Linked DNA regions of Homo sapiens: region 1 is linked to region 2. Evidence: fine-mapped expression QTL. Tissue or cell type: lung. Region 2 holds a variant in brackets; the other region holds the start of a gene. All regions are shown on one strand. Distances are from middle to middle.

Region 1 (2,683 bases), 190 kb before region 2:
CGACAGAGCGAGACTCCGTCTCAAAAACAAACCAACAAAAAAAAAACAGGCCGGGCGCGGTGGCTCATGCCTGTAAATCCCAGCACTCTGGGAGGCCGAGGCGGGCGGATCACGAGGTCAGGAGTTCAAGAACAGCCTGACCAACATGGTGAAACCCCGTCTCAACTAAAAATACAAAAATTAGCCGTGCGTGGTGGCACGCACCTGTAATCCCAGCTACTCAGGAGGCTGAGGCAGGAGAATTGCTTGAACCCGGGAGGCAGAGGTTGCAGTGATCTGAGATCACGCCACTGCATTCCAGCCTGGGCGACAGAGTGAGATTTCATCTGAAAAGAAAAAGAAAAAAAAAAAAAAAAAAAAAAAAAGAAGGACATTGGTTCTGTCCAGAAAGGCGGGGGCAACTTGGAACAGGGAGGGGGCTTCCAGGTCACAGGTAGGTGACAGACAAATGGTTGCAGTTTCTGGGTTTCTGATAAGCCTCTCCAAAGGAGGCTATCAATATGCATTTATCTCAGTGAGCAGAGGAATGACTTTGAATAGAATGGGAGGCAGGTTTGTCCTGAGCAGTTCCGAGCTTGTCTTTTCCCTTAGTTTAGTAATTTTGGGGCCCCAAGATTTTCCTTTCAGAAAAAAGAAAATGTGGTATATATACACAATGGAGTACTATTCAGCTCTAATAAAAGAATGAAACCCTATCATTTGCCACAACACGGATAAACCTGAGGATATCATGTAAGCAAAATAAGACACAGAAAGACAAATACCTCATGATCTCACTCATGTGGCATCTTTAAAACGAAGTTAATCATTAAGATATTTACCAGTTGTCTGAGGTATTGGGTTGAATTTTCTTTTTTTTTTTTTTTTTGAGACGCAGTCTCGCTCTGTTGCCAGGCAGAAGTGCAGTGGCGCGATCTCGGCTCACTGCAACCTCCGCCTCCCAGGTTCAAGCGATTCTCCTGCCTCGGCCTCCCGAGTAGCTGGGACGACAGGCACCCGCCATCACGCCCCGCTAATTTTTTGTATTTTTAGTTGAGACGGGGTTTCACCATGTTGGCCAGGATAGTCTCGATCTCCTGACCTCGTGATCCGCCCGCCTCGGCCTCCCAAAGTACTGGGATTAAAGGCGTGAGCCACTGCACCCTGCCTTCCAAATTAAAAACTTTTTAAAACCTCGTACCTCGCCGTGGGCGGCGACCGTCGCGGACTCGCCGGGAAGACGGCCCCACGGAGCCGGGAACACCGCCCGCTGTTCGTATGTCCGAGGTGACGCCCCGCTGTGGCGGGCTGGCGGAAGTGACGCGCTGCTGTGGCGCGCCGGCGGACGTGACGCCACTGTCGCTGCGACGATAAGGCCTGGCGTTATTGCTTAGAGGCGGCTACCTGGAGCCGGAAGCGCGGCTGCAGCAGGGCGAGGCTCCAGGTGGGGTCGGTTCCGCATCCAGCCTAGCGTGTCCACGATGCGGCTGGGCTCCGGGACTTTCGCTACCTGTTGCGTAGCGATCGAGGTGCTAGGGATCGCGGTCTTCCTTCGGGGATTCTTCCCGGCTCCCGTTCGTTCCTCTGCCAGAGCGGAACACGGAGCGGAGCCCCCAGCGCCCGAACCCTCGGCTGGTACGGACCCCTCCCCGGCGTCTCCGCTCCCCTGACCCCACATCCCCTAGAAGACCTTTTTTCTGAGCCTCGCTGCTCGGATTTCTTCTCGGCGCTCCCCGGTGGTCTCTTCCATTATGGTCCCCACCTCAGAAATTTTTTTTAACCGCTCCAGCGTCTCTTTTCTGTATTCTTACAACTTTGTGGCAACCACCTCTACTGGCCCCACTTCGACCTTCCTTCCTGATCACCACAAAGTAAGCTGTGTCCATACCTGGGATCCAGCCTCTCCACTTCTACTCGTCCAGAGCTCCCGCCCCTTTCCTGAGCAGCCTTTGGGTCACTCCCCGTTATAGGCGCCCTTTTTGCCCCCTAGCACACAACAGATAAGACCCCTGCCGATCCCCTCGCGTTTTGGTCTCTTATATTCCTCCAAGATGTTTTCCCTGCCTAGGGGCTAAGGCCTCTCTGCGTTAGGCCTCTTCCTAGGCTTCACCTACCCAGCCATATACAGCAAGTAAAGGCGCCCTGGTTCTGGACCACTTGCACACATCGCCAGCCGCTGACCATGTAAACGCAGTATGTAAACGCCCAGCCATCCCGTAGCTGCAGCTCTGCGTTTTAGGTCAAGCTCCCTAAATGTCCCATTCCAGGACCCTTACGTAGGGATTCTCCTACCCCAGTACTCTTCACCATACTGAGGATAATTCACTGCTTGCTACTGTGGGTCCCTAAGATTACTCCTGTTAACCCCCGTCCTTTCCCCCCAGCACTACCTACCAAGTACAAGTCGCCTCCTTTTGGGTTGGGTTATGTAGATATCGCAGGGTATGTGCTGGAGAAGTAGGTAGAAGCTAGATTGTGAAGGTGCTTGATGCTAAGGAAAGTTTAGAGTTCAATTTCCTTTTTTTTCTTTCAAACACTTAGGAGCCAGTTCTAACTGGACCACGCTGCCACCACCTCTCTTCAGTAAAGTTGTTATTGTTCTGATAGATGCCTTGAGAGATGATTTTGTGTTTGGGTCAAAGGGTGTGAAATTTATGCCCTACACAACTTACCTTGTGGAAAAAGGAGCATCTCACAGTTTTGT
Region 2 (2,683 bases):
CCTTAACATACACAGTTATGGCTAAATTTGCATTTCAATGCTGTTATCTCTCTTCTTTTAACCCAACATAGACTTCTGTCAGCATCCCAGACTAGCATTCGTTAATTGCGGGCTAATGTGTCTTTCCTAAACAGTATCTTGTTCAAAATCAAGCCACTGGAAACAGTTGCTCTGCCAAGGCTGAAGGAGGAGGCAGGCCGCCTTTTCCAGCCTGTCAGGGAGGAAACCTCACCTGCTGCGCTGAGACGGCCTGCCTGTCCTGCTGCTCCTCTGAGTGGTTTTTATCTGCTCCTCCCAGAGAACCTCAGCAATGTGAGGGCAGGAGCCGTCTGCCCACCCCGAAGCCCTGGGGGAAGGACTGCCCGGCACAGCTCCAGGGTAAAAACAGAAACCGTGGGACGCATGGCCTCTCTGCTGTGGGTCCCTCCACCGCCCCGGGCCTGCCAGACAGGTTCTTCCGCGGGGTGCCCACTTCCTGTGTGGAGCCTCCTTGACCCGTCTGGTTCCATGTGCCCCATCTCCACGCGCCTGCATGCCATCACTCCCACCCATCTCTGCGCCTCCCTCCAGGGCCCGGCTGCTGATAGCCCATGCGGGACAGCGCCCGTGGCCGGGACTGAGTCGGCACACCCAGACCCGGGTGCACAGGCTGCCCCAGAGTGACAACGTGAATGCATCCTCAAGCATGTGGAAGGCCCATCCTTTTACAGAGATGTGCACGGGAACATGAGCCTGTCTATTTACTTAGACAAGGGAGGGCCCTGGCCACGTCCAGGCCACAGAGGGAACATGAGCCTGTCTATTTACTTAGATGAGGGAGGGCTCTGGCCATGTCCAGGCCACATGCCACTCCAGTCGGACCTGCCAGAGAGGAGCCCTCCGTGTCCTCCTCCTCCCCTCCCCGTCCAGCGTGGAGGCTCCCGTGAGCCCCGAAGTCGGGGCCCCTTTAATCTGGAGTCTAGGGGGCCCCCTCTGTCTCTCCTTCACAGAGGATTTGGTATAAGCCGTGGAAGGACCTAGTGTTCTCATTTGTGTGTAAATGAAAATTAAAATTCTAAGCCCCCAACCAAAGGATGGACCCTCCCCTTGGCCAACAACATTCCAAATTATCCTGAAAAACTGCTTCAGGCCATGAGGGGAAATGGGAATCAGAGCAGCCTCACAAACATCAACACAGAGACCTTCAGTCTCCTTGAGTCTGATAAGCATTTACCATCTATTCTCTCCCAAGTCTTCTCCCTGGAGGCTTCATCTGCAATAAACCTTGCTCTCTACAACCTCTCATCTTAACCCAGGGATTCCTTTCTGTTTGATTCCAGGTCTTTAGATAGTAAGTCCTTCACCAATGGCCAATCAGAAAATCTTTAAATCTACCTGTGACCTGAAGCCCTCCACCTCCTCATGTTGTTCAGCCTTACCAGACTGAACCAATGTACATGTTACATGTATTGATCGATGTCTCATGCCTATTTAAAATGTATAAACCAAGCTGTGGGCTGGGCGCAGTGGCTCATGCCTATAATCCCAGCACTCTGGGAGGCCGAAGC[G/A]GGTGGATCACTCGAGGTCAGGAGTTTGAGACTAGCCTGGCCAACATGGTGAAACCCCATCTCTACTAAAAATACAAAAAATTAGCCAGGCGGGGTGGTGCGTGCCTGTAATCCCAGCTACTTGGGAGGCTGTAAAAAGTTAAGTAGAGCTTCCTCTTCAAAAACTTTCCTCCCCATCTAATTAGGAATAAATAGTAACTTCTCTTAGAAGCAAAATTTATTCAAAGACCTGTGCTAACATTCTTAAATATCTGCTAGCCATAATAAATAAATGAATGTACTTTTTTTTCTTAGCTCCCACAAGTTAGCCTAAATATTTGCCCTGGCATACTTATACTGGTCCCAGCAAGCATTAGGTCACAGTCTGTTCCTCTTCCTTATTTGAAGGTGTTTTTACCTTTCTCAGCATTCCACAAATTACTTCCTCCTTCCTTTGTTCTCCTCTGCCTTTGCCTCTTTTGAAAAGTTCTAAGTTGCTAGCCAATCGCGACCAATACAGAATGTGAGGTCCCGTTCCAGCCAATGGAAACCAGACACAGCAGTCGGGGGGACGCGTCAGGTTATAAATGACCCTGTCTCCTTTGTTCGGTGTACCTTCACGGCAAAACTGCTGGCGAGTGTGCCCTTTCTGCAGAAAGTAAGAAATGGCCTTGTTGAGTAAATTAAATTTATGTTCCAGTGCTATTTCTTTACAGCACCGGGGAACAAGCATTTCAAACAAGGCTGAGGCAGGAGAATCGTTTGAACTGGGGAGGCGGAGGTTGCAGTGAACTGAGATCTTGCCACTGCACTCCAGCCTGAGTGACAGAGTGAGGCTCTCGTCTCAAAAAAAAAAAAAAGAAGGTGAAGAAGAATTTTTGTGTGTGTGTGTGTGTGTGTGTAGGGTTTAAATAGTTAACTAATATTTTGTACATTGTGTGATCAGGTATCTACTTTCTTATCTACATGGTGTGAAATGAGTTTGTGTGTGTGTGTGTGTGTGTGTGTGTGTGTGTTATAAAATGAACATGTGTTAAATCAGAGACTTGAAGTGCCTGAGACTTTGCTCTGCTCACAAGCTAACAAGCTAGCCAGCCAATTTCACACATACGTGGACACGGGAAACATCAGTTCCCGTGGGTGGACGGGACGATGTG

The links. PIP is the estimated chance that this variant, and not a neighbour inherited with it, causes the effect.
Region 1: it holds the start of PIGG, and the variant in region 2 is fine-mapped to the expression of PIGG in lung (GTEx, PIP 0.98).

The regions. Positions count from the first base shown.
Region 1 is chr4:497,876-500,558 of GRCh38, forward strand. It overlaps PIGG (phosphatidylinositol glycan anchor biosynthesis class G (EMM blood group)), which reads left to right and starts at 1,335. Exons shown (of 13, transcript NM_001127178.3): 1 at 1,335-1,614; 2 at 2,521-2,683. The coding sequence starts at 1,461. ZNF721 (zinc finger protein 721) reads right to left here and starts at 1,281. Exons shown (of 3, transcript NM_133474.4): 1 at 1,181-1,281. RefSeq lists enhancers at 567-1,432, 996-1,475, 1,433-2,296.
Region 2 is chr4:692,623-695,305 of GRCh38, forward strand. No RefSeq gene overlaps it. Among named protein-coding and RNA genes, the nearest start is that of SLC49A3, 4.8 kb to the left of the region's middle. RefSeq lists enhancers at 1-512, 513-1,099, 2,207-2,683. The variant G/A (reference allele first, on the strand shown) is at 1,548.